Linked DNA regions of Homo sapiens: regions 2, 3, 4, 5, 6 and 7 are each reported to be linked to region 1. Evidence: microRNA targets listed by miRTarBase, many of them from high-throughput screens and not tested one by one. Region 1 holds a microRNA gene; each other region holds the end of a gene's coding sequence.
Evidence for each region. Region 1 holds the annotated microRNA hsa-miR-548p (UAGCAAAAACUGCAGUUACUUU, at 1,121-1,142, shown strand). A microRNA usually pairs through its seed, bases 2 to 8, with sites in the 3' UTR of a target mRNA and lowers its output. Matches are read on the target gene's strand: a 7mer-m8 pairs with bases 2 to 8, a 7mer-A1 pairs with bases 2 to 7 and ends in A, and an 8mer does both.

Region 1 (4,000 bases):
AATTTCAAAACAGAATTAACTTGTTTGTGCTTTATGTAATATACTGCAGACTAGAATACAATGAAAGGACTATTTTAACAGTAGGGAAGAAAACAGCAGATATTCTATTTCAATATGTCCACGGATGACTGCTTTAAGTTTCATGTTATGTAGCTGACACACATATACTCCTCATAAGAATGAATGGACATATTGACAAATGTGAATGATGGAATCTCAAAAAACATACATTTATTTATTGCTCCATACTGTGATTTTTGATGGGAAAAATAAGGTCATCATAAATGGTCTCTATTAGGTTTCTGGGGTGACTCTAGAGTTGAGAATGTGCAGATATGTCCTGCAAAGATTACTAATAGAAAGCCAATTATCTGGCTGGGCACGGTGGCTCATGCCTGTAATCCTAGCACTTTGGGATGCAGAGGCAGGTGGATCACGAGATCAGGAGTTTGAGACCAGCCTGGCCAACATGGTGAAACCCAGTCTCTACCAAAAATACAAAAAAAAAAAAAAAAAAAAAAAAAAAAAAATTAGCTGGGTGTTGTAGTGGGCGCCTGTAATCCCAGCTACTTGGGAGGCTTAAGCAGGAGAATAGTTTCAACCCGGGAGGCAGAGATTGCAGTGAGCCAAGATTGCGCCATTGCACTCCAGCCTGGGTGACACAGCGACAGAGTGAGACTCTGTCTCAAAAAAAAAAAAAGAAAAAAAGCCAATTATTTTATAATATCTCAAATTACTGCAGACTGGAAGAACCAAAAGACATTTTTTTAACCCTTGACATAGACTTCCAGTGGAATGCAGCACAAATCTCAGTTACTGGAAGACAAATATGAGAGGAGAAATAGAGGAGACTCCTTAATTAAGAATACAAAGGTATATTTTGTTATACACTTCATCTCACATTCCAGATAGAAGAATTTCTGGGCTCATTAATGGAAACTTTGCTTATAATATAACATTAAATTACAACTGTTGGCACAGTGAGATTCCATCCTTGATATTCAAATTCTTCTAGAAATTGTCACATTTGATTTTTGGAAGAAGAATAACATTTTAAGAGAAAAAACTATCATTATTAGGTTGGTATAAAATTAATTGCAGTTTTTGTCATTACTTTCAATAGCAAAAACTGCAGTTACTTTTGCACCAATGTAATACTTCTAAACTTTTAGACTTCTTTATTTAAATATAAACACAAACCAATATTCCTTGTTTGTCAATATATTGAATGTGAGCTCTCCTTAGTATCAACGTTGTTAAATATAACATTTTTGTTCCTAAAACTGTGGTTGCTTGAAATAATCAGGTATTTTGACTCATCGGGTGATTATTATCTGCTTTTATTATGAGATAAAATCTAAAATATTACAGGATTTAAAATCAATAAGCATTTATTAGGTACCTTCTTTTCTTTGCAATGTGTTACAACCTGAAGGAAGGAAAGGGAACAAAATGGTGAGGAGGAAGGAGACAAGGAATAAGAGTGTTTCACACAATTTCACGGAGAGAGAAGATTTGAAACTGCAATTGAATTTTATAGAGGAAACCCCAAAGCCATAGAATTAAATGTTTGTTTCAGAATTAAGGAAACATGTCCATTGAGGTTAAACGACGTTACCACAATTGTCCAGCCAATAAGTAGTCACAGAAGGTTCCAAGAGAGAAGTGGGTTTGTGAGTGGGACTGAAGAATGATTGTTTTGGGATATGTTGAGAGCCAAGTAGTATTGCTTATTATATGTCAAGCTTTATGTTCTTTTACCTTTACTGTCTCTTTTACAGCATTACAACCTTTCTTGTTAAATATTGTTAACTGGGCTCCAAAGAAGTGAAGCAGCTTTCTCAAGTACTTATAAACATATCACAGATACAAAGCTGTGTCTTCTGACTATAAATATAGCCTTCTATAGCACACTGATTTGGTGGGTAGAGACATTCCAAATTTTCAGTTTGTTTGAAGTAAGAAATTGAACTAATATTTTGGAGCAAGAGTATATAAGACACCTCACTTAGCCAAAACAGAGCTTTCATGCTCTGTTTTGTATGTGAGAGAGTAGTGAGATCTACAGAGGCTATCAAATTTATTAAAAAGTTATAAATGTTCTATTAACACATAAAGTCCAGAGTGAATGTTTCATACAACAGAAGAAAGTATAATAATAAAACAAAAGGGAAGGAAAGAAGGAAGAAAGGAGGGAAGGAAGGAAGGAAGGAAGGAAGAAAGGAAGGATGAAAGGAAATTAATAATATTAAAAATAAAACATAACCTCTCTGATGAAAAATAATTTGTATATGTCTATATGTGAATGTAACATATATTAAGATCCAAATCAGCCAGAGAAGCAAAAGGATGTTGCATGTTATAGCAGTAATTATCCTTATGTGGATGGATTATAGGTAATGTTTTTCTTAGATTTTTTTTCCTTCAAATTTTCTACAAGGAGCTTACATGGATTTGGTAACTCAAAAAAATCAATTTACATAGAAAGAAATACATGTATATAAACTAAATTATTGTTTGAATGTAAAATTTTGCTAAATTTTAAACCATAACATGTACAGTTGGGATAAAAGCTGGAACATGTTATACTGAAACAGTGTGAATATTCCATTATTTTATCAATGCATTATTTTCAATTTAATATTTTTCCTAATGAGGATGAAACACAAGTTAATATTCTATTTTTGATAGACTCCATAAAAATTTGCAGTTTTCAAATATCAAATTGTGTATAGGTAGATACATTCAGGTATGGATTTCAAAATTGTAGTCTGGGCTCTAGCTTTTGATGCTGATAAATATTATCTAACCAATTATGCTGACAGAATTAAAAAGAAGATCTATTCTTGTCCTTTTCACATGTGGAATTTGTTACTGGTTTAATACCGAATTGCAATAATTTAGATTGGCCTATACAATTTCAAACACAACATTAGGTTGATAATAAACACAAAATACAGTCTTATTGACTGTATTTGATCAGTTCTGTGTTTTTAAATTTTTAGAAAGTTATTACTTATTGCCTACTTAGTGACCTGATTTAAGGTATTTTTCAACTTATCTGTTACATATTGATGCCATTTATTAAGGTGTATCTTTCTGTGACACTTTTTAGAAATCAATAGGATAAGTGGCATTTATTTTGTGTTGTTTCTTCAAAAATGTCCTGAAATATTGACGGTATATTTTTCTTTGAAATTATTCAAACTGTTGCAAATCAAATATCACAAAATTTATTTTTCTGTTAGCATTTCTAAAGCTAAATTAATTCAGTATTTTAACTGCATAGATTAATTTATTTAGAACAAGACCACAAAAAGTTTTTAAAGTCACTCTACTCATTATTTTCAAATAAGATGCTTTGCAATCACAGTTTCATTTTCAAGACACTTCAGTGATATTCTATTTGTGGTGTCTCATAAGATGTCCTGTATCAAAAAATTTGGAGTGATTTCACGTCTCTGACACCATTTTAAAGCCAATAATTTTGCTTTCAGCATTTCTAACGTTGTAGTTACTTATTTGTATTGCATGTAGAAATTGCTTTGGTATTTGTCAATGAGCAACCATAGTTACATGAACCTCGAGGAAACCTCTCCAGAATTAGGAAATGGAAAGCATTTGTTGATAGTAAGAAGTCTGGAGTTTCATACAAGTAATATAGCAGCATTTTTCTCACTTTAGAAATAATTCAGCATGACCTTCATACTGCCAAATTGTTCCTAATCATTGACTTTGCCTAATGGAAATACTGTTTTCTTTTTGACTGATTTTGAATTTGCTTGGCTTACTTTAAAAATTTATAAATAGATAGTTTTTTTTTAACTAACCAACTCTATCACCTAACCTCTGCAACCATACATATTCACAATACTTTCACATAAATCACATTCACAATACTTTCTTATAATCATTATTTCATGTTAAAAAACACTTGTTTTCTCAGAGCCCAGAGAGCTTCAGGCCACATCATAGTTTCTTCAAAGCCTTCAAAGAAGTT
Region 2 (4,080 bases), not on the chromosome of region 1:
TTTACTATCAGATGATCTAGGAGAAAAAGTATAGATACATATGTGGAGACAGCGAGGGCAACAGGAGTGTGAAAAGAATAAAACAAATGTGACATGTTACCTTGGTGAATCTGGGTGAAGAGTGTATGGGAGTACTCTGCACTATAATTGCAACTTTTCTGTAAGCTTCGAATTGTTTCAGAATGAAAGTTTTTAAAAATGAGCAAGAAAAACTTCCCATAAGTGCGCCATGTTTACACTTCTGGAGAGAGGCTCTTCATACTTGCATCAGGTTCTGACTGTGAACACTCCTCAAAAAAGGGTCAAGACACATGAATAGAAGTGATAAGAAGGGAAAGAAAAATTATGAAAAAAAACTGATACACCTTCTTCCCATTACTTATATTTCTTTTGTTTTAATTTTTTTTTTTTTTTTTTTTTTTGAGACAGGGTGTCATTCTGTTGCTGAGGCTGGAGTGCAGTGGCACAATCATGGCTCACTGCAGCCCTGACCTCTCCAGGCTCAACCTTCCACCTCAGCCTCCCAGGTAGCTGTAACTGCAGGTGTGCACTACCATACCCAGCCGATTTTTGTGCGTTTTCTTGTAGAGACAGGATTTCACCCAGGCTGGTCTTGAATTCCTGGGCTCAAGTGACCCAGTTGCCTCAGCCTCCCAAAGTGTTAGGATGACAGGTGTGAGCCACTGAACCCAGCTTAATTTAAAAACAAAAAAATTTTATTTGATAAGAGGTCTTGTTATGTTGTCCAGGTGGTCTCAAACTCCTGGCCTCAAGCAATCCTCCCAAAGTGCTGGGATTATAGGTGTGTGCCATCATGCCCAGCCATATTTCTATATTTAGTCATATTCTCTGACTCTTATAAATGGGAATTAAACTCAAATAGCAAAGATAAAGATCTGAAGCAATGATGTTAGTCTGAATATCAGGGTTTTAAAAAAAGGTTTTAATTAAAGCAGTAAAACTTAAATATTGTAAAAATAATAGCTTTTGCCACATTAGCAATAAATGCTGTTCTTTCTTTAGTCTTTATTAATAGAACCATGGGCTTGCTCTATCACTCAGGCTGTGCAGTGGCACAATTGCGACTCACTGCAGCCTCGAACTCCTGGGCTCAAGCAATTCTCCCGCCTCAGCCTTCCAAGTAGCTGGGACTACAGGTTCATGACACCACTCCTGGCTAACTTCAGTCTTTAAAACTCAATAGTTGACCCAAAACAAATTTCTCATTCATTTTATATCATTTATTCATTCATTCTGAAATATTTCATCAATTTTGAACCAAACACTGCTCACTGGTGGGGGGAGGAAACTGCAAGTAATCATTAATTGACTCTTCTCATTGACCACAAAATTAAAATATATTTATTACACTGGAAAGTGAAGTTTCTTCATTGTGGCTAGATCAAAGAATATGATTATAGGTGAGAAATGTGTAAAGAGTACAACAAAAAAATCAATTTAAAATGACTATTTAGGGTGGGCGCAGTGGCTCACACCTGTAATCCCAGCACTTCGGGAGGCTGAGGTGGGCGGATCACTTGAGGTCAGCAGTTCAAGACCAGCCTGGCCAACATGGTAAAACCCTGTCTCTACTAAAAACACAAAAATTAGCCAGGTGTAGTGGTACACTCATGTAATCCCAGCTACTCAGGAGGCTCCTTCAGAAGACAGAAGGAGCATTGCTTGAACCTGGGAGGCGGAGGTTGCAGTGAGCCAAGATGGTGCCACTGCACTCCAGCCTGGGAAACAGACACAGCGAGACTCCATCTCAGAAAAAAAAAAAAAAAGATTTTTAAAATGTCACATGTAATTTCTCAAGAAAATTAACTGCAACTCAGGTTTATTTTCACATTGTTTAATTTTATGTACATTTCACATATCATAAATACACACAATACAAAAAGCTATACAAAAACCCTACTAATTCAACATTTAAAAAAGGGAGAGGGAGATACTGCATTTGATTTCTGACACTTTTCTGTTTAAATAATACTTAAATTCAGTTTTCAAGAAGACAACAAATTGAAAATCATTAATTTTTCAGAGGGCTTTGTGTTCACATAAATTCATCATTCAGGCTGGGCATGGTGGCTCACACCTGTAATCCCAGCAAGTTGGGAGGCTGAGGCAGGTGGATCACCTGAGGTCAGGAGTTCAAGACCAGCCTGGCCAACATGGCAAAACCCCATCTCTAAATAAAAACAAAACAAAACATAAATAAATTCATCATTCAAGTATATTTTTATTGAAGCAATAAACCACTTCACTGGCTGTAGAGTCAAACTGGGTAAGCCTCAATATTGAGCAAAAGTAGAGAACTCTTGCTTTCCTCAGCCTAGAATCAGCTTCTAACACACGAAATGCAGAGCACAACAGTGATTTTTAAGCTGGCATTATTAAGACCACAGTATAGGGCTGACAATGCACAGCACACCCTATATTGTTTGCCTATAGACTCTTGTTAAAAATATCATACTAAAAATAATAATTAGAAATTTTATTTTTCCTAATTTTTTATTCAATTTAAAAAATAATACATCTTTTTCATTGTGCTTGGCAACTGGACATGACATAATTTAAACACACAATGGAGAAAATATATACATAACTGCTAAAGGATTTTGACATTGTTTAAATTAATTATTTTATTATTTTGGTTCAACAGTTATCAATCACAGTAAATATAAATAACAAAATAATATCATTCATCATACGATCATGTTTTTAAAAAGTGAATTGTTGAGGCACAAAAACATTACGTGACTTGCCCAAGGTCATGAAGGGAATGAGGGGCAGACAACAGCATGTTTTTTCTAACTTAAACAACTATACTAACCCCTAGCTTATACCATCTTTCAAAATCAGCTCAGGGCGACAGATACAGAAATTTAACGCATTATCCAGGAATGTTTGTTTAACCTAAACTGCTGTTATTAATAAACTTAAGAATCTATATGTTTAGCATAAATTGTTAGGAATTTACAAATAAGACATCTTTTTCTGAATTACTAGGTGTGTAATTTGTTAGTATTTGACACAATTGCAAAAACAAAATTGACTATTTTAAAGAAACGAATTCTGTGAAAGATGCTTATTAACATGATTTTTTTAAAAAATACTAATTATAGGACCTACAAAATTCAGAAGACAGTACCTTAGATACAAACATTTAATATAAATGTACTAAATCATCTTCTAGTTGACCCTTTGTTATCAATGAAAACGTTCTAACAAAGCACTCATAATGTTTCCTGGTATTCTTTGGTGCTTATCAATCAAAGCTTGAACAGCATTCTTCGTCTATTAAGAAAACAAAAGAAAAGCTATTGTTAGTAGATCTTAATATAGACTGATTTATCTCCCATTACCCCTCAGAATTAATGATTTCCTTCTCAGTACACCTGAAGCTTATATATTTCTCTTTTTTATAGAGATGGGGTTTCACTATGTTTCCCAGGCTGTTCTCGAACTCCTGGGGCTCAAGCAATTCTCCCACCTTGGCCTTCCAATGTGCTGGGATTACAGGCATGGGCCACTGTGCCTGGCTGCAGCATATTTCTTATACTTATTTTATTAAGCCTTCAATTATAGTTGTTGTCCACGTGTCTATTTTCTATATCAGACTGTAAGCTCCTTAAGATACATCTTAGAATTTCTCCAGCATTAAGCACAGCAACACCTTGCACATGATAAACACTAAAGGGGACTTAAAGAGGAAAAAAAATAGAAAAATTTCGAGTAGGCAAATGGAAGACTTAGTCCTTTCCAGCTATTAGTAAATTCTAATGTATATTTTCTTTTATCACCATACATACTGAACAATTATATCAGGGTCTCACTGTGTTGCTCAGGCTGGTCTCGAACTCCTGGACTCAAGGGATCCTCCTGCCTTGGCCTCCCAAAGTGCTGGGATTACAGGCATGAGTCATCATGAACTATGTATTTACATACATATATACTTCCTTTTCTAGACTTTAACCTTTAAAGAAAATAAACACTAGGCCAAAGATGTATTATAAAAATACGCCCCTTTGGCTGGGCGTGGTGGCTCACACCTGTAATCCCAGCACTTTGGGAGGC
Region 3 (4,078 bases), not on the chromosome of region 1:
CAGGAGGCGGAGGTTGCAGTGAGCTGAGATTGCGCCATTGCACTCCAGCCTGGGCAACAAGAGCGAAACTCCGTCTCAAAAAAATAAAATAAAAATAAAGGTCCACATGGAAGCCTTGATTCAGGAGGGACTCTACAGGTGCCCTAAGGAAAGACCTCTCCGTTCTGGCTCCTACACGTTAGAGACCAGCTACAATGCAGAAGACAAAGTTGAGACCAACGCGGGGAAGCAGGGACTCCTGTTACCTTATTAGAGGATTTGCTGTTGGGTCCCTTTAAATAGTGAGCTCTGGTGAGTTTTTAAATTGCTTTAAGTAAGTCAGAGGTCCCCAGCCCCAGGGCCACAGACCAGTATGGGTCTGTGGCTGTTAGAACCTGGCTGCACAGTAGGAGGTGAGCAGCAGCGGGTGAGCATGACCACCTGAGCTCCGCCTCCTGTCAGATCAGCTGCAGCATTAGATTCTCATAGGAGTGCAGACCCTATTAATTATGAACTACGCATGCGAGGGATCTAGGTTGCATGCTCCTTAGGAGAATCGAATGATCTGTCACTGTCTCCCATCACCCCCAGATGAGACTGTCTAGTTTCAGGAAAACAAGCTCAGGGCTCCCATTGATTCTACATTATGGTAAGTTGTATAATTATTTCATTATATGTTACAATGTAATAATATAAAAATGCATAATAAATGTAACGTGCTTGAATCATCCCAAAACTATCCCCCACCCCCAGCCCTGGTCTGTGGAAAAATTGTCTTCCACAAAACCTGTTCCTGCTGCCAAAAAGGTTGGCGGCCACTGCTTTAAGTGACAAGGCACAAAGCGCACAGTACGATCCCACCCAAATTTGCCAAAAACTCACCTTCTGCCTGAGCCACGTACGTGGATCTAAAGTGGAATCTCAGCTCGTTCCAAAAGCTTTGCTCCTCTTCTTAAGGATCAAAAAGACTGATTTCAAAGGGAAAGGGGTCCATTAAACACTGGGGGACCTTCCTTGCCAAGGCTCTTATCAGGCTCTTGCAGCTCCACCATCCAGGCCACCCTCTCAGGCTGAGAGGAAAGGGCTTATCTAACCATGTGGAAACAACACTGCCTCTGCTGGGTCGAGACTGGACAACCGCTGGGCCTTTTCAGCCCCTAGGCCATGATCAATATCACTAATCGCTTTACCTTCTGTGCCCAGCCTGCGGATATTCAATTTCTCTCAGGCCTAGAGCTAACGTCATGTGTCTGGCTGCTAAAAGCTCCGGCTCCTTTTATTACCACAGTAAAGGAAGATAACAGGCGAGAGGTCTGCTGTAGACATTTATTGAATCATCTGTTGCACCAACAGCACATTGTATTTCACAGAAGATTGGCCACAGGCAAAATAAAATAACCCACCACAAATCCGCTTCTGGGGGCCTTCTTCAGCTCCTTAGTCATCCAGTGTTCACTTTGGCAAACAGACCAGTTTACAGACTTTTGTTGCAAATCTAAGGTTCCATTTCTCTCTGTAGCATTCCGGCTAGAGAGAGACACGATTGTACTTTGGTAGTTTGTCTAAGGCGGAGTTTTCCCACATGTAAACATTTCACTATACAAGTGTGTGCCAGCTGATTGAAGAACTGACGGCACCCCTACCCCTGAAGAGTGTACAGTCTAAACAGGAGGCGAACACTGTCATCCGGACAGGCTGAGAGGAGGCGGGGAAAGGGGCTCGAAGGAGCCTGGGCAGACCCTGCTGGGGAGGGGCCTGGACTACAACCACCTGCTCCCAGAAATGACACTGCCTGAGGCAGGAGACACAGCAAAAGCCAACTATGGGAAATCTGAGCATTAGAGGAGACTGGCCCCTTTCTCTAAGACGGCCTCAGGTAGGAAAAGGGCAGCCATTACAAGAAGAAGAGTCGTCAGGTTTGGAAACTGTATATTAAGCCCTTCACTGAAGTACACAGTGTCTGTGTGTGTCTCAAGCTAAGCCATGCTCCTCAAACACCCAAAAAGAAAGGAAAACAGGGAGAGAACAGTCACCAGATCCAAGAAGCACATGATCGGTGTTCTTTTTTTTTTCTTTTTTGAGCCTGTCGCCCAGGCTGGAGTGCAATCTCAGCTCACTGCAAGCGCCATCTCCCGGGTTCACACCATTCTCCTGCCTCAGCCTCCCAAGTAGCTGGGACTACAGGCGCCCACCACCACGCCTGGCTAATTTTTTTGTATTTTTAGTAGAGACGGGGTTTCACTGTGTTTGTTAGTCAGGATGGTCTTGATCTCCTGGCCTCGCACACGATCAGTGTTCTAATCACACTATTTCCAGGCCGAAGCCAAATGGTGACTCAGCTAACATGACACTCTTTATGGGGCTGGAGTGATGTGCAGACACCACGGGGGATGACTGTAGTTGTTCTGACTCCATCCTGACTTCCTGGAAAGATGGGCAGCAGATAAGGAGAAGGCTCGTCCTCCAGAACAGAGGCAGCAGCTCCAGCAGCCCCAGGGGGCTCTAGCCACAGCCAGCAGCAGCGGTTTTTCATTTAAAAAATTATAAGGTTTGTGCCCTCTGCCTCCCAGCCTGAGCAGAGCCTGGGTGAGCCTGGGAGAGGAAACCAGAGCTGAGCCGCAAGGGGGGTGCTACAAGGAGGGAGCCCCAGCAGGAAGGGGCTGCAAGGTGCCCCCCATCCCCAACCCCCATGTCTGGAGCAGCCTGGGAGGAGGCCCGCCTGCATCTGCCAAGAGAAAGTCTGTCTGAAGTCATGGGCTTCTATCCCCTCTCCCACCAAAGCCATCCTAGGGCTAAAGGGTTAAAGAAGAGGAAGGTCAGGACTACAGCTGGGCCACAGCCTCATCTCAGAGCTTCCCAGGGGCCAGTCCCTCCCCTCTCCTGGGGAACCTTGCTTTCACCACCAACATACTTTACACATCATATCACTTGCTCCTCTGCCAAAGGCCGGGCCCATTTGTGCCACGTGTTATTCAGGCTGGAGGGACTCCTTGTTTGAATTCAGCAGCCATCGTGGCCTTTCCAGGCCTGTCCCTGAGGCCCCCCCAGTTTCCCCTGGCCTTGCCCCAGGCATCTGCTGCCAGGAGGGTGGGGCCTCCTCTCTCGCTTCTTTAAAGATCTGTGCTCTGCGACCAGGACCGAACACCCGAAGTCCTACCCAAAGCCTTCTGCACTGAAGGGGGCAACAGAGACACGGGAGCCACACACAATGAACTGGTCTATAGCAGCGGAGAAAGGAGAAGCAGAGGAGGCGGAGACCTGACCCCAGAAAGCAGCACTCAAACAGATGCAGCTGCACCCACGCGCCCGCCTGCTGCCAGAGCCACTCTCCGGAGCCTGCAGTCCTGAAGACGCCTCAGCAGGGGCAGGCAAGAAGACACCCCGCGAACCCCCAGGGCCGGCCGGGCGCATCACTGGGAGCCGGGGCTATCTCCCTCCGTCAGCGTCTTGAAGTCCATGGAGAGGGCCTGCTCTTCCGCCTGGGAAGGCCGCTTCCAGTCGGCCCGGGTCAAGATGTAGAGCACCGCCCCACCGAAGCAGGCCAGCAGCAGGCCCAGCACGTTGGCCAGGACACCCTCGGGCTCAAATGCGCTATACTTGCCCCTGCAGGGGTGAGAGGAAGGGAGAAGCTGCCCAAGGGGTCACAATTAGGCCAAATGCCCTTTGTATCCTGGGCCTTAAAGATGCCATGGGGATTCCAGCACCAGCCCCTGCCTCCCTGCCCTGCCTGAAGAGAACAACCATCCCCCCGCCCCCAACCAGCAATCTCCAGCTATGGCTCACAGACAAAAAGAGATGGGCAATGTAAAAACCTAGATCAATATTCTAGCTCTAAGCAGTTGTCCTGCAGATCCTGCTGCGTGGTGGGAATAAATAGGGTGCCCATAGCCCAGAAGTTTCTTTGAAAGGGTAAAATCAAGAAAGCTAACCAAAGCCAAGCCCCAAGCACCCAAATCTTAGCAAGCATAACTACAGCCACCAGTTGTGACGCCACGAGAGGCGGCTCAGGAAGCCACAGCTGGGGAAGCTGAAGGCAGGGTGAGGTCTGTGCAAGGGTGGCCCAGGCCCTGCCCTCTCCCACCCAGGACACTCACCCGAG
Region 4 (4,073 bases), not on the chromosome of region 1:
ACTGGGGTGTGCCCGGTTAGATAGTAACAACCTAACCCAATCATGCTCTGTAGTGGGAGGGATAGAGACAGGAAGGGTCACGTTGGCAAGGTTCTTTATGGACCTGCCAACCCTGGAAGAACCAGGATACAGGGTAAGCATTGATTTCCTTTTGCTTTACAATAAACTACAGTCTGTGAAGGTAATATAGCTGTGTCATCTCCAGCTATGGAGTACTCCCAGGGGAGGCCTAGACATGTTGACATACAGAAAATCCATTCCTACTCTGCCCTGTTCAAATTCTAGATTCCTGACTCACAGAATCACTGAACATATTATAATAGTTGCATAAGCTTCTGAATATTAGGACTACAAGCAATATTAACGAGTACATTTATCTTGCCTCAAAAGAACACATTTTTTCAAAAAGAAGAAATGATACTGGGCTTCTAAAAGAACCAAACGTGAGAAATTTGCCTAAACTCTTTCCATCTTGTAGCCTTCTCTCTGCTCATCTGCTTTGGTCTTCTCTGCAATCCACCATTGTTTAGTCCACACCATGAATGGAGCATTTCTTCCCACAGCTCCCATGCACATCTGCTACAGGAGTAACTAGCCACATGTCACTTGGTCCTCTGGCCTAGCCTGGGTCAGGTGTCCATCCCAGACCCAGTCCATGTGGTGAGGCTGCAGGGCCATGTGATGTGGGCATGTATTGGAAGAGAAGAGGTCACTAATGCTAAATGTGGTACAGCGAGGGCAGAGAGACCTTGAAAGGCATTCACTATATTCTCAGAGGCAGAGCCCTTATAACAGACGCTGTTGATGCCCCATCCCATATTCTCTTGGCCTATCACAGTTTGCCAATAGCTGAGGCACAGTTTTCTGCAAGGATGACAACCTTTCCACCTCCAGTGAGTATCTCCCTTCTCCTTTGCCTGTGAGCTTTATCACACCCGTGATAGTTGCTTTTCTGCAGTTACATAGCCCAATCTTAAAGTGCATTAGAATTAACACTCCCAGGCCAACCTTCAACCAATTCAAGCAAAGGAGGATGGGAAGTGGAGATAAAGTCCCAGGCCCTGTAGTCCTTAGGAAGATTCTGAGCTATATCACACATTTCATATGGTTTCTTAGAGAGTCCTAAAAGGGATTCAGCCAAGTTATCCACATGGTAACTGACTCATGAGTGAACCCTTTATCCCATTTGTCATGTAATTGGCTTTTTTTCATTTCTCAATTTGTTTCTGCACTTGTGTTTCCTGGAATCACTTCCCAAATCAGTGTGGTGAGCTGAATAGTGCTCCCCGCACCCACCCTTTGAGCTATATTCACTATGAAAGTTATGAAAAGAATGTATAACACAGTAAAATGAATTTTACACAGAATTAAGGTTATGGACCTTAAAATAGAGAGATTATTCTAAATTGTCTGGGTGATCTCAGTTTAATCATAGGAGTCTTTAAAAGTAAAAGGCAGACTGAGCGTGGTGGCTCATGCCTATAATCCCAGCACTTTGGGAGACCAAGGTGGGCAGATTGCTTGAGCTCAGGAGTTTGAGACCAGCCTGGGCAACATGGCAAGACCCTGTCTCTACAAGAAAATACCCAGGCATGGTGATGTGGCTCTGTGCTCCCAGCTGCTTGAGAAGCTAAGATGGGTGGATTGCTTGAGCCCAGGGGACAATGTGGTGAGCTGAGATCACGCCACTGCACTTCAGCCTGGGTGACAGAGCGAGTCCTTGTCAAAGAAGAAAAAAAAAAAAAAAAGAAAGGAAGGAAAAAAAGGAGAAGGTAAAAGAATCAGAGAGACACAATGGAGAAAAAGACCTAGGAGATGAGCCTCAATGCGCTGTTGCTGCTTTGAAGATACAGGAAGGGAGCTAGGAGCCAGAGTGTGGCAGCCTCTAGAAGTGGGTACAGCCCTTAGCTAAAAACCAGGGAACAACTGGGACGTCAGTCCTATAAATGAAAGGAACTGATTCTGCCAATAGTCTGAATAAGCAAGGAAACAGATTCTTCCTTAGAGACTCCAGAAAGGAATCCAGCCTGCAGACACCTTGATTCTAGCCTGGTGAGATCCCTGTGGGACTTCTGACTTCTCACCTACAGAACAGTGAGATAATAAATTTGTGTTGCTTTAAGTTCATGAATTTCTGAAGCCAGGCGCGGTGGCTCATACCTGTAATCCCAGCACTTTGGGAGGCCGAGGTGGGTGGATCACAAGGTCAGTAGATCGAGACCATCCTGGACAACATGGTGAAACCTCGTCTGCACTGAAAACACAAAAAATTAGCCAGGCGTGGTGGCACGCACCTGTAGTCCCAGCTACTCGGAAGGCTGAGGCAGGAGAATCACTTCAACCTGGGAGGTGGAGGTTGCAGTGAGCTGAGATCGTGCCACTGTACTCCAGCCTGGGAGTACAGTGGCACAATCCAATCTCAAAAAAAAAAAAATGTCTATACATTTCTGGTAATTCAGATGGCAACAACAGAAAATGCATCCAATAAGGGTCTTGTGAAAATGCTGCAGTGAGGTAAACTGAGACTGTGGTGAGTACAGTGGGTGTGCAGACTACTGTGCTGAGTAGACACCACAGTCTAGAAAAAGCCAAGCTGAGGAGTAAGCATTATTAACACATTTATTGAACAACTAGAACTTGACAACCACTTGCCAAGTAGAGGGGATACAGTGGTGAGCAATAATAGTGATGATAATGAGGAGCAGTTTTCCCTAGCAGGCAGCAGTTGAAAGGAATATGGGTTTAACATCCACCAATGACCAGGAGTGGACAGACCTATTTCCAGGAGACTGAGTCCATAGTGGGATTAAAAACATCCCTGTAATTCTTTTAGCTTCCTTGATCCAAATTTCCTATATCACAGAGAATCTCTAGGGTATTTGCTCTGCCTGGAAACCTTGATTGAAGGAAGGCTGGCTCTGGCTGCACAATCACTTATCACATTTGTTGGGTGGGAACATATCTGTGCCCCATGATTTATCAAGTGTGGCCTCTAGTCTCTTTCCAAGTCACATGTCATGTTGGTACTATGAGGTTATTCTCTCAACCAAGACACTCTGCAGAGCTAATCCAAGGAGTGCTGGGTCTAAGTCTCTGATATCAGCTGGGAAAGAGTCAATAGGGATGTCAACTCCACAAGCACTTAAAATGATCTCTACCCTGCAGCTGTCCTGGGAAGGAAACCTCAGGGCTACATGTGGGCTCTTCCTGTGGGAAAAAAAATCAGGCTGGAAAAGAACAGGCAATTAGCCAGGGACTAAGGCTGAACATCTCCCAACTGCACAAATTACTGTATGAGTTATGTAAGTTACTTCATGTTGCCCTGCCTCAGCTTCCATACTTGCAAAATATGACTACCCGACAGGGTGTTGTGAGGATTAAAGGAGTGACATCCACCAAAGCTTATAACACAGCACTAAGAACATTTTAAATTCTCTGTTAATGTTAGTTATTGCTGTTTAGATCCCAGCTCTGCTGTTCACTTGTCATGTCTACTTTGTAAAGTTAATTCACCTTTCTGCACCCCAGTTTCCTTATCTGTATAAGGGGACAATAAGGTGGTACGAAACTCAAAACAACTGTCATATGGAATAATGGAATGAATATCAGTAAAGTGCTTCAGTGCGTGCCTGTAGCTTATGGTTCTGATTGGTTGTTGCAGAAGGGGAGACCTCAGCTCCAGGGTGGGCAGGGAGAAGCAGAGATGTTACTTCAGCCTGAGGCTCCCCACTTTCATTAGCTAAGCCCGGGGTCAGTGGTGTCTCCAGGGAATGATCAGGCACTAGGTCAGGATCGGGGGAACTCTCTACTTCTTTTGGTATTGGGCAAATGGTCAGGGCAGTGGGCTCCAAGGTCAAAATTCTGAAAACAGGATATAGAGGCTCAGAGAAAGAGGCGTGCGGAAAGGTGTAGATATGAGATCCATCTGTGGCATTATAGAACGAGATCTCTCCAGTCTCATAGTCCAGGAAGATCCCCACTTTCCTAGGAGGCTCAGGAAGTTTCAGGTTGGTTCTGGGCTCAGTGAGAGCCCGATACTTATTCCCATCAGTCAGGCCCATAGTCCAGTATCC
Region 5 (4,080 bases), not on the chromosome of region 1:
CAAAATATCATATTGGATTTTGCGACTGAATCTGCCCAGGGACATTAAAGTCCAGGATGGTTTATGTAAGTGTACTTCTGTAGCTCTATTCCTAGCTGACTATTCTTCGATTCCCTAATCACAAAGAAATGCATTCTTATGAAGTTAAGCAGCTGTAGACACAGAATGCTGATGACATTTTCTCCATATCTGAGTTATCTAAAGAAAACCCAGTTAGTGGTAATTCTACCAAATACTTGTAACATTCACATAAAATTTTAATTGATTTTCAAATAGTACAACTGTGCCACGAATCCAACCACATAGAATATAAGCCTTAAGCCCACTAGGTTTAAGCAATTGTGTCTTTGTAGACTAAAACTATGTAAAATAAAATCTGATAACTCCCTGGTGTTAGAGGTAGACAGTTTTCTTTCAAATCCTAGGTTTGGTCCTTTATTTTATTCAGCAGTGAAAGCCATGAATACAGAACGAATAACAGCTGTTACAATTCTCAACCATGACTTCTAACGTCAGAGAATTCAAAGTATGAACATAGTACACAGTAATGAAAAGTATCAAAAATTAGTTTACCTCAAAAAAGATAAATAAAACAGGTATATTCCACCAATACATAAACAGATGTTTGTGCTACAGTTTAAAATTTGCTGTATACAAAAGATCATAGTCCCCATAATCAGCTTATGATAGAAGCAAGAATACATGAGCCATTTAAATTGTCAGACATTATGCTTTATAAGGTATGCACAGAAGTTCAAGCAATAAATACATACATTAGTTCAAAGCCTTACAATAGCTACGCAAAGCAGATGCAGAAAAGCAGATTTGCTATTACTAGCAAGCAATGATATAAGAGTAAAAATTCATGAAATGCATTAAAGCAACATTTTTCTTAGAAAAAGTCTGGTCATTTATGGGTCCACCAACATTTTTACATAATATGCACAATTATCAAAATACAGACCAAGCATTTCAGGAAACTCCAAAAAACCTAAAATCTATTTTCAAAGCAATTGCAGTTTTGGAGGTTTTTCTGGTATAATGTGCAAGCAGCTATTTTTTAAAATTGTATTCATATAAAACCCATGCAAAACTCTACAGGTATATGCATTCTGTGGCTGAGACTTCCTTTCAAAAGTTTTCTAACTGAGGTATGCATACTTTAGCATTGTAGTCTTAGGCCACCCTTCTGATGGTACAACTCTCGCAGTTACTTCCAGTCCCTCAAAGCCTTTTGAACATGCACCTGAAAGACCCATTTTTCCTTTCAGATAATCCTTACAGTAGGATCCTAGATGACTGAAAACCATCTTTCACCATACCCATCTTTCTTTTAATACCATATTGTAAACTTCCGGTTCGTTGATCATGACCCAAAGACAAACATAATGAAAAGTAGCAGTTACTGTGACGTTCTCACGTTTCATGCAATCTGCCATAATTGTTCTAATGTTTTTCTTTTTTTTTTTTTCTTTTTTTTTTTTTGCAGAGGTAGAAGCTTTCAGAAAGCCTTTTGGGTAAGTGGGAAAACCCTTTTGAAAGCCGTTATGTCCTTTTATTTGGTGTGATAGATGACTGGGTATCTCTCTAACTCTATTTGCTGACTTCAGCAAAGAATCAATGATGAGCTTAGTTTGCAAGAACCGGTTCCATCACATGGAACGGGAACGTATGTTAAGCTCTAGCAGCCACCTTCTGTCAAAACTGTTTGTAAAGCAATAACCATAATCAGGTTATGAGGTCCCTTGGTTGGGGGAAAAAGTATTATCAAGACTTGGCACAGCACATGAAAAGCAACATGTTAAGTTTCTAGGTTTTAAGCAAACATCTGACTATGCTATTTTCAACTACATCATAACTCATTATCATAGTTTTGGGGTTTGGAATTGTCAAGAAAACCAGCATTCCAACAATTTGGCCTGTGCAAGTCTTTGAAGGGAGTGTATTGTTAGTGTTAATATCCCGTATAAGCAGAGGCAGAATTATATGTAACTTTGGTTTGACTGAAAATAAATACCATGGACTACAATTGCTATAATCTTTGCTTTCAGTGTAAAAACTCAGCTAGATCACTTTAAAATCAATATGAAATTAATTTTTGGCTTTACTAGACCTTTTATGTTTGGTTCCTACTTTTTGTTTTTTCATTATAACTTAAGACTATAAAAAAATAGTACACAACAAAGATTAAGACCATACAAGACATCTTCTAACAACATGTATTCACCACTGAAAATAACTGACTGAATGAGGGAAAACAAAAACACAAAGTACTATATATATAACAATATGCAATCTGCATTTGCATCAAGTACATAATCGTTTTGGTCAGTGATCCACATTTGTTGCTTTCTAGCATATCATAACTTCCACTGCGGATTTTGTCCTCACCTCTGTCTTTAATGAAAGCAAATCTTCATTGCATTTAGATGGACTTTTGGCCTCAGAAGATTACTCTGTGACTGAATTAACATTTTTTAGTTGTGGTTTTTGTCATATTTGTTTCTTTGTTTAGGGCTAAATGAAAAGATCCCAGAGGTCATCAGAAAACAGCAGGTAGTTCATGGAAAAGGTTCCTTTGTACTAATTGAAGTTACAGAAGGCTGACCAAAGCATGTGGCTGCTTCTGTCCTTGAGCTCTTGGCCATGGTTAGAGTTGGCTTTGGTTTGCAGCTGTAGCCTTTGACTGTGTTTGCAGGTAGACAAAGCTTTATCACAAGGAGGTAAAGAGTACAGTTGTAAGATCTATGCAGATATGCAAATGTTTCTATGGTGCTTGCACAGATAATGTTAGCTTAGGATTGCACTTTACATCTTAACACTAACAGCACAGACTGGAAGCCTAAGGTTTTAGATGGTTGCAACAGTCTAATTACTGTGTTTTGTAATAACTAACTTATGTCATTTACAGTTGGTGGCACCAACATAAAAAACTAATGTTCTGTTGTTTAAAATTCAGCTAGATACAAGCAGTGACACTAATTTCTGATACTACTCCTGTGCAAATTAAAAACAATAGCAACAAGTTGAACTTGACCAGCAATTGTTTCTAACATTACAACTACTGAATGCTGGAAAATTCACATTAATGAAACTAACACTATTTTTGGCAGTATATGAGGCGCATTTGCTTTCTACAGGACATGTATCCTCATATTCAGTCATTTCATGAACCCTTAAGAGCCACATTTTTTAAATGGGCAAAGCCATTATAGAAAGAACAGTTCATTTTTTTTTTTCAAGAAAATCAGTTTTTGTCTTTTTTTCTAAAAAAAAAAAAAAAAAGAAGAAGAAGAAGAAGAAAACAAGCAATTTGCCTGTTGGTACTGAATCCCAAAGGGCTGGCTTAGTAAGTTCCTTTAGGGCTGTCTCCTTTATCCATGCTTAATAAATAGTCACAGTAAAAATTTGTCAAATATTCATGGTTGTGGAGTGGTTATGAAGGTCAGTGATATGTCCCTTCACGCTGAGGTTTCACAAGTCAGTTCTCATTCCAGATCTTCAGATAAAGGCTCTTCTTCAATCTCTCTGTCGTCTTCTAATTCTGGACTGTGATTAGCTGTTGTCACTAAGGACATTGGGCAGTCTTCATCCTCTGCAATCACTGGCTCTTCCTTGACGTGGATTGAATGTCTGAAAAACATGTAGATACACCAAAATTTTACTAAGTAAGCAACAAACAGAGTTTGGCCAACTTTGCAGTGAAGAGGTCAACTGAAAAAAGGCAAGAAGACACAACATTGTCTTTCTTAAAAGGGCATCTGATTGATTGCGTGAGCTGGTTAGAGACATGATACTTTACAGTAGAACTGTGGAGGCAGGGATTCAGAGTAATGTGAGCATGGACTCCCACATGCTGTGCTGTTTAGGTAAAACATCCGTTTCTCAGCATTCTTTCTGAATGAAATGTTTTGTTAGTATTTGTTATAACATGATAATCAAGGAGTGGTAGTAAAGGAATAGTAAACAAATAATTAATCAACAAATGAAAACACTTTTACCATTCAGTTTTTTGCTAGCAATTAAGATAACAACTGTTATTTCTAAATATTTCAGACTTGAGTTTAACAATTTTATTTC
Region 6 (4,073 bases), not on the chromosome of region 1:
TTATATTACCTGTTTAGGTGATAAATATGCGTACCATTAGACCAATGGACATGGAAACCATAGAAGCCAGTGTCATGAAGACAAATCATCTTGTAACTGTGGAAGGAGGCTGGCCACAGTTTGGAGTAGGAGCTGAAATCTGTGCCAGGATCATGGAAGGTATTTCAAAGAAACTGGTTCTAGAATACAGTCAAGCTATAGTAAACATCATGTACCTGAATACGTACAGGATAAAGAGATTGAAAGCTAGGAGTGGCCAAACGACTTCAACTTTAAACTTGTAAGTTTGGCATTTCTCTTCAGGCAGATATTTTTAAAAGCAAATCCAGAAAGCGGTTCCCCATAATTAGCATTCCTTACATTTTCTCTTCCTGGTCAGCCACACCTCTGTGCCAAGGTGGTAGTGCCCAGCTGGCATTTGCACTCTCTCAGTTGAGCCTTCCTTCTCCTAGGTCCTGCGTTCAATTTCCTGGATGCTCCTGCTGTTCGTGTCACTGGTGCTGATGTCCCTATGCCTTATGCAAAGATTCTAGAGGACAACTCTATACCTCAGGTCAAAGACATCATATTTGCAATAAAGAAAACATTAAATATTTAGTTTGGACTTGAATATCAAGTCGTTGAAATTTATTTGAAATACTTGCTGGCACTGCACCTGGATTTGTACTGCAAGACCTGACTATTCATAACGGAAAACGATTTCTAAAGCAACAGCAGGTATTTTTGTACAGGGAAGTTTAAATGTGTTTGTGTATGGAAAACTCTCCACTCTCCTCCCCTAGATGCCATGCTTCCTTTTGTCTGTTACGGTTGCCATGTTCTTTGAATAACAAATTATATAACATTTTATCCTCTCTCACCACAAGGACAAAGTATGGATGTGGCAGAGTCCTCATGAAAGATGTATCCAAACAAGATAACTTATATGTATAAAATTAAAGCATATAATATACATTTACTGTTAGTTTGTTTTGATAAGGAATAAAGGAATTTCTAACATGACTAATTTTTTTTTTTTTGAGACAATGTTTGGCTCTGTTCCCCAAGCTGGAGTGTGATGGCACAATCTTGGCTCACTGCAGCCTCCACCTCCCAGGTTCAAGTGATTCTCCTGCCTCAGCCTCAGTAGGAAATTAGCCACCACATCCGGCTAATTTTGGTGTTTTTAGTAGAGGTGGGGTTTCACCATGTTGGCCAGGCTGGTCTTGAACACCTGACCTCAGGTGATCCACCTGCCTTGGCCCTCCCAAACTGCTGGGATTACAGGCATGAGCCACCACACCTGGCCATGACTATTGTATTTTTATATTGAAAGAATTGGCTGGGCTGGGCGTGGTGGCTCATGCCTGTAATCCCAGTACTTTGGGAGGCCAAGGCGGGCAGAACATGATGTCAGGAGATCAAGACCATCCTGGCTAACATGGTGAAACCCTGTCTACTAAAGCCGGGCATGGTGGCATGCGCCTGTAGACCCAGCTGCTCGGGAGGCTGAGGCAGGATAATTGCTTGAACCCAGGAGGCGGAGGTTGCAGTGAGCAGAGATGGCGCCACTGTACTCCAGCCTGGACAACAGAGCAAGACTCCGTCTCAAAAAAAAGAATTGGCTGGGTGTGGTGGCTCAGACATGTAATCCTAGCACTTTGGGAGGCCGAGGTGGGTGGATCCCTTGAGTGTAGGAGTTCAGGACCAGCCTGGGGAACATGGCAAAACCCCATCTCTACAAAGAAAAGATAGATAGAAAAAAAAAAAGTCAATGTGGGTAGAAAACTTGAAATTCTATTTATTAAGAAATTAGTGCTGCCAGGCCACAGTAGCTCATGCCTATAATCCCAGCACTTTGGGAGGCTGAGGCAGGGATTGCTTGAGCCCAGGAGTTTGAGACCAGCCTGGGGCAACGTTGCAAAAACCCTGCCTACAAAAACAAAACAAAAAAAACAAAACAAAAAACCCAGGTATCTGGTGGTGTGCCTATAGGAGGATTGCTTGAGCCCTGGGAGGTCAAGGCTGCAGTGAGCTGTGATTGGGTCACTGCACTCCAGCCTGAGTGAAAGAGCGAAACCCTGTCTTAAAAATAACAACAAAAGAAATTAGTTCCATGTGGAAAATAAGCTGATACTGTACAAGACCATTACCTGTTTGTATTCATATATCTGAACTATCCAGAATAGTCAGCAAAACTGACTTCAGAAGGACTCAGGCCTCACAAGCCTCCATCAGGTAATCACCTAGGTTGCATCACACTTGAAACAGGAACTTCTCCACAGACTCTCCAAATGCCTAATTCTAATAGCATTCTCTTTAAAATTATGGCAAAGTTTATATCAGTTGTTTTTCCCATTTCCAAAGATCAGATATTCTGTCAAATACTGCCCTCCAGAAGCTGAGATGGAAAAGATGGGTTTAAATTAGTTAGAGAAGCATATAGGTGGTACCTAATTTAAGTAGCAAGGCAGGATTTTTAGTTCTTAGAGGAAAAGTGAGACACAAAAGAATAAGAGACAGGATAGGTAGGAAGGAAACCTTAGACTGTGTGAATCTATTCTTTGCTAACAACAGACGCTACAAAAAGTTCTCATTTGAAATATCTTGTCAAGCTACAGACAACACGTTTTCTTGACATGATTTTAATAAAAAATACAGCTGACATAACAGATTACATGAAACTATACACAATGACATTCTCTGCATAGTAACCAACACTGATGTGTGTACTTGAATTTTTAAATGGATTATTTATAATCCTTTAAAGTGCAATTTATTGAAAGGTTTAAGCAAATCAGGATAAAGGATCTTTCTAATAAATGACTAACATTAAAGAGATGCTATATTGATATATTTAGATAAATCTTTCAAAAATCATAATTGATTTCTATAGATGCCAAATTTACTTCTGTTGTAACAATGACCTGCCCCCCTCAAACCCCAAACTTAATTGCTGAGGATTAAGAAGATCCTCTAATTGGCAAGAGCTTTTTCTGATGTTAATATTTTTGTCTGTTTCAATACATCTAACTAAAAAGAACTATGGGTCTAGAGTAGTTGCTTTAGCAGCCCTGAGTTCTATAACCACAATGGTATTCCTGTTAGAACTTAAGAGAATGTTGTGAACGTTCCCCATTCTATTTGAGGAGAAAACAAAGAACTCAGTTGCTTTCTGATTTAGCAAAGTAACTATGCTTTGGGCTATAGTGTTAATGTCTAAGATAAAGGTAGCAAAAATTGGAGTTATCTAAGAATCAGAAAATGCTTTAGAGAAATGAACTGTAAGAGGAATGTTTCTAGGAGCTGTCTGATGGGGTAGAAGGGATTGCAACACAAAGGCCATTTACTGCTGTGATTGAATATTGTCATTGTTTTTCTGTCTATTTCCTTTAGTTGGTGAAAATATTTCAATATGCTGCTGTCCCAAAAGCCTGGCCATTAGAGGATAAACAAGACTCCTTTACAGGGTTAATAAAGGAGCAAGATCTTAAGGGAGCAATGCCAGCCTAACTTTATTCTGCTTAAAGAATTATTTCTCTCGAAAAGCTGCTTACATGAGCATCTGCAAAATAGTACTGTTTGTGGCTGTACTGGCTCAGCAATTACTTTCCCAGGAAGAGGGTAGTTTGGGGGGTAGGGGTGAGTAGGAATAAAAAAGAACTTTTCCCTCCAAGTGTAAACAGGAAGCTTCAGCCGATCTTCGGAGCACTGTGATCACAGGTTTTGGCTTTCCTCAAAGTTCCTTTTTGGAAATTCTGGATGGAGCTGAGCAAGGCCCCTCGGCTCATGCCATTCACAGCCTGAGACGAGAGCTGGGCAGGTGCCTCGGTGCTCGCAGGAGGCAAGGGAGCTGCTGGTGGTGGTGGAGGTGGAGGAGGTGGAGGTAATGCAGATATCCCTGTGGAGGAAAAGGGGGACAATCAGTATTCACCTCCACAGCTGCCCTGCACACACGCTGCTGCTCAGTCCTGAGCACAACGGACTGGTGAGAGTCCACATGTTTTTCTCAGAGGGACCAACATACCTAGTACTGTATGAGTTCTTAAAATACTAAAGAAAGCTAGAAGCATCAAAGGGGAATTAAAAGTTGC
Region 7 (4,080 bases), not on the chromosome of region 1:
CACAGATATTATGTAGATAGAAATAGATAAATTAGAATTAATTAAGTTTAGAAAGATTGTGAATACAAAGTCAAAACAGAAAACTTGTAGTTTATATATCAGCAAACAAGATGTAACTTAAAACACTTTTCCCAATGGCTTAAAAAAAAGTAACAGCTGGGCATACTGGCTCATGCCTATAATCCCAGGACTTTGGGAGGCTGAAGTGGGTGGATTATTGGAGGTCAAGAGTTAAAGACCAGCCTGGCCAACATGGTAAAACCCCGTCTCTACTAAAAATACAAAATTAGCTGGGCGTGGTGGCATGCACCTGGAATCCCAGCTACTGGAGGCTGAGGCAGACAATAGCTTGAACCCGGGAGGTGGAGGTTGCAGTGAGCCAAGATAGTGCCAATGCACTCCAGCCTGGGCAACAAGAGCAAAACTCCGTCTAAAAAAAAAAAAAAAAAGAAAGTATCCAATACTTGAGCAAGTCTAAAAATCAGTCCTCCCAAATTGATCTATAGATCTGACACAATTCCAATAAAATCCCAACAGGCTTTTTTGTTGTTGGTAGCTTTTTGTGGAATAAATTGATTCTAAAATGTATATGGAAATGCAAAGTCCAATAATAGACCGAAGAAAAAAAGTGGGACCATGTACTAATACTATAGCAAACATTGATACTATAATTAACACAGTCTGGTATTAGCATAAATAGAACCTATATAAAATTAGTAAGAATACACAGGCAGAAATAGACATACACATATATTGGCACAATTTATGACAAAGACCCCCAGTAGAATGCCTGAAACCATGGACAGTACTCAACCTGATTGCCCTCAATAGGAATATGTTTCTGTGCATGTCTTCTGCCCACAAATTTAATGCCTTTTCCATCTTAACTGAGCACTTATCACCCCACTGTGGCTACTCTGAATGGTGGGCAATTTAAAACTTATGAATTCCTTACTTCTAGAAATTTCCATGCAATATTTTTGGTAACAAACTGTGGGAAGCGAAATTGCAGATAAGGGGGGATGTACAAGGTGATCTAGGCTCATCTTGTACATTCATTGCCCTATCCCTAGAATGAGCCATTTCTCCAAAGAGCCCCAGGTCCTTTTGTGGAAGAAGGTATTAGTAAGCAAGATCTGGCTGGGTGCCGTGGCTCACACCTATAATCCAGCACTTTGGGAGGCTGAAGTGGGAGGATCACTTCAGCTCAGGAGCTCAAGGGCCTCAGGAGCTTAAGGACTGGCTGGGCACCATGGTGACACTCTGTCTCTACTAAAAAAAGAATACAAAAATTAAGCAGACGTGGTGACACACACCTGTAGTCCCAGCTACTTAGGGAGCTCAGGCGGGAAGATCACTTGAACCTGGGAGGTCGAGGCTGCAGTGAGCCGTGTTTGTACCACTGCACTTCAGCCCAGGGCGGGGGAAAAAAAGAAAGAAACCAACCAAGATCTGGGTGGTAGGTGTGCTCATTGCCATTAGGGTATCATTGCTTTGAGACCATCTCAGTGCACTTGCTTCTTGTATGTGTTATACTTAAAAACAAAACAAACAAACAAACAAAAAACACCCAACCAAGACAACAGTATCAATAGCAAATCATGCTAAATATTTAAAATAGAAATAGTTCTTGAAATACAACATATCTAAGACATACTGAAGTGAGGCAAGATGCAAAATAACTGCATATGTATTTAGTTATTCTAAAGTAATAAGCACTAAACTCAAAGCAGGATTAAGGGAAGCCTCTTCTTTTTTTTTTTTTTTTTTTTTTTTTTTTTTGAGACGGAGTCTCGCTCTGTCGCCCAGGCCGGACTGCGGACTGCAGTGGCGCAATCTCGGCTCACTGCAAGCTCGCCTCCCGGGTTCACGCCATTCTCCTGCCTCAGCCTCCCGAGTAGCTGGGACTACAGGCGCCCGCCACCGCGCCCGGCTAATTTTTTGTATTTTTAGTAGAGACGGGGTTTCACCTTGTTAGCCAGGATGGTCTCGATCTCCTGACCTCATGATCCACCCGCCTCGGCCTCCCAAAGTGCTGGGATTACAGGCGTGAGCCACCGCGCCCGGCCGGGAAGCCTCTTCTTTTGGCAATCTCTATTTCTGTATTATCTGAATTTTATTTAACATATACTATTTTCATAATAAAATAATTAAAATCAGATTTAGTTGTATAAAATAAAGAATTTTAATTGATTCATAACAAAAGCATTAAGCAAACAAAATGTTAATTAAAAATTTTAAATAAAATATTTAAAAGAAATAAGTGCAGAAAATAGCATTAAAATGTTTGCATAATTACATACATTTTAATACTTCCACATTCTTTTGGGGACCCAGGCTTTTAAATTTTGGAAACATGTTAACTTACAGGCAAATAAAATGAATGCAGATGAATAGTTTCTACATATAATTACAATCTGGAAAACGACTTGCCTAGAGTCTTATTGCCAGTTAGCAGTTGAATGATTTTTCAGAATCAAAACAATTTGAACAATGTTTTGCTTTTTAAAGTATCCAAGAATTACACTAGAAAAATGTGTGAACATTTAAGTGTATTTACACAGTTCCATGGTCTCTCATCCACCAGCCTATGTATATTTACTAACCTTGGTTCTATTACCATACATTTTGTAAAGACTTTTGCCAGGTATCTCAGAACAAGTAAGGTGCATTTTAAACAAGCAAAAAATTAGAAAATGAAAACATCTAATCCAACTAGGCATTTTGTTAATGACATCAATTGTCAGTAACAGGTTCCCAAAGTAGTACTACCAATATTTCCATACAACAAAAATTAACTAAGTAATAGTGCAATTACTAAGTATAATTTTAATTAAATCTGATGACAGGTAAACATTTATTTTCAAAAAGATTGAACACTAAGCTATCAAATTCTGCTCTACAGAAATGCATATGGGATAATCTTATTCCTTACCATCTTGTTACAAATAAATTCTAAACATTTTCTAAAGATATTCAAACTGAGTTACTACAGACGAGTGCCTATCAAGTGAAGACTCTGTATAGAGAAGTCAGGAATTAGGCTGGGCACGGTGGCTCATGACTGTAATCCCAGCGTTTTGGGAGGATCGCTTGAGCCCAAAAGTTTCAGACCAGCCTGGGCAACACAGTGAGACCCATGCCTCTATTAAAAAAAAAAAAAAATTCAGGAATTCCCTTTACAAATTGGGCACAGAAATTACTTGCCCAAGTTTAAATTTGCCTGTTTGCTTCTGATGTGGCATTAGATAATCCTGGTCTAAGAGTGGGCTTTATAAAAGACCAGGTCACATTTCTAGAGAAAAATCACTTTGTATTTAATACTCTTACAAAGAGTCAGGTAATTTTCCAGTTATAGCTACAAAGTTTCATAATTAAACATTCAGAGTGCTAATCAGGGAATCACCCAAAGATTTTTCCTTTGAATCCCCAGATAATTTTCAACAAATTTATTCCTGACTTTTCAACTCATAAGGAACAAAACTGTGATATGTGTGTGTGCGTGTGTGTGTGTGTGTGTATGAGTGTGAGTCTCGGTATTTTTTATTTTGATATTAAATAGTTTGTATTTTATAATAAGGAGCTCTTTGAACTTATCCAGATAGTAACTCCTTTATAACTGAAATCAGCTTTAACTATTAAAATTATATACGAGGAAATTAGGGGTGTTGCAGTACTTGGTTGCAAATAACTTGCCATCTGGTGTTGGGTCAGAAAATGCTATTTCATCAGTGCTGAGAAAACAGCCAAACATGAAGCAATTCCTAAAAGAGAAGAAAAGATGATTTAATGATGGAAGCAACTTAACATTCTAATTAACATGAGCACAATTTAAGTAAATACTCTTGACTTAAATCAACCTTATTTTTAGTAAGTGAAAAAATGCCTTATATTTTAGAGACAGAAGTCTAATGATATCATTTCACAGATGGGAAAACTAAGGTCCAGAAAAAATTCTGATGAGAGGCAAAGGGAACCATCCACCTAACTCTAGGATATCCATGGTAAAGAGCAACTAATATAAGATCATATTGCTAGGCCAGGCGCAGTGGCACACGCCTGTAATCCCAGCACTTTGGG

Region 2: the mRNA of TMEM68 is a reported target of hsa-miR-548p. Seed matches in the 3' UTR shown: 7mer-m8 at 2,304-2,310.
Region 3: miRTarBase lists CYB561 as a target of hsa-miR-548p. Seed matches in the 3' UTR shown: 7mer-m8 at 1,788-1,794.
Region 4: the mRNA of BTN3A3 is a reported target of hsa-miR-548p. The part of its 3' UTR that is shown has no 7-base or 8-base seed match.
Region 5: miRTarBase lists FOXP2 as a target of hsa-miR-548p. The part of its 3' UTR that is shown has no 7-base or 8-base seed match.
Region 6: the mRNA of PXK is a reported target of hsa-miR-548p. Seed matches in the 3' UTR shown: 8mer at 3,211-3,218 and 7mer-A1 at 3,161-3,167.
Region 7: miRTarBase lists ESCO2 as a target of hsa-miR-548p. Seed matches in the 3' UTR shown: 7mer-m8 at 2,681-2,687.

The regions. Positions count from the first base shown.
Region 1 is chr5:100,813,640-100,817,639 of GRCh38, reverse strand. It overlaps MIR548P (microRNA 548p), which reads left to right and starts at 1,075; the gene lies at 1,075-1,158. The region is part of intron 4 of ST8SIA4 (ST8 alpha-N-acetyl-neuraminide alpha-2,8-sialyltransferase 4); the gene reads left to right.
Region 2 is chr8:55,736,919-55,740,998 of GRCh38, forward strand. It overlaps TMEM68 (transmembrane protein 68), which reads right to left. Exons shown (of 8, transcript NM_001286657.2): 8 at 1,840-3,300. The coding sequence ends at 3,214. Among named protein-coding and RNA genes, the nearest start is that of TMEM68, 34 kb to the right of the region's middle.
Region 3 is chr17:63,431,013-63,435,090 of GRCh38, forward strand. CYB561 (cytochrome b561) reads right to left here. Exons shown (of 6, transcript NM_001915.4): 5 at 4,074-4,078; 6 at 1,292-3,582. The coding sequence ends at 3,390. Among named protein-coding and RNA genes, the nearest start is that of CYB561, 13 kb to the right of the region's middle. RefSeq lists a silencer at 4,069-4,078.
Region 4 is chr6:26,451,944-26,456,016 of GRCh38, reverse strand. BTN3A3 (butyrophilin subfamily 3 member A3) reads right to left here. Exons shown (of 11, transcript NM_006994.5): 11 at 2,602-4,073. The coding sequence ends at 3,606. Among named protein-coding and RNA genes, the nearest start is that of BTN2A1, 4.0 kb to the left of the region's middle.
Region 5 is chr7:114,689,335-114,693,414 of GRCh38, reverse strand. It overlaps FOXP2 (forkhead box P2), which reads right to left. Exons shown (of 17, transcript NM_014491.4): 17 at 1-3,633. The coding sequence ends at 3,489. Among named protein-coding and RNA genes, the nearest start is that of MIR3666, 38 kb to the right of the region's middle. RefSeq lists an enhancer at 3,698-4,080.
Region 6 is chr3:58,424,559-58,428,631 of GRCh38, reverse strand. It overlaps PXK (PX domain containing serine/threonine kinase like), which reads right to left. Exons shown (of 18, transcript NM_017771.5): 18 at 2,505-3,880. The coding sequence ends at 3,672. PDHB (pyruvate dehydrogenase E1 subunit beta) reads left to right here. Exons shown (of 10, transcript NM_000925.4): 9 at 18-159; 10 at 453-1,002. The coding sequence ends at 598. Among named protein-coding and RNA genes, the nearest start is that of PDHB, 7.2 kb to the left of the region's middle.
Region 7 is chr8:27,802,990-27,807,069 of GRCh38, reverse strand. It overlaps ESCO2 (establishment of sister chromatid cohesion N-acetyltransferase 2), which reads right to left. Exons shown (of 11, transcript NM_001017420.3): 11 at 1,754-3,764. The coding sequence ends at 3,632. Among named protein-coding and RNA genes, the nearest start is that of ESCO2, 30 kb to the right of the region's middle.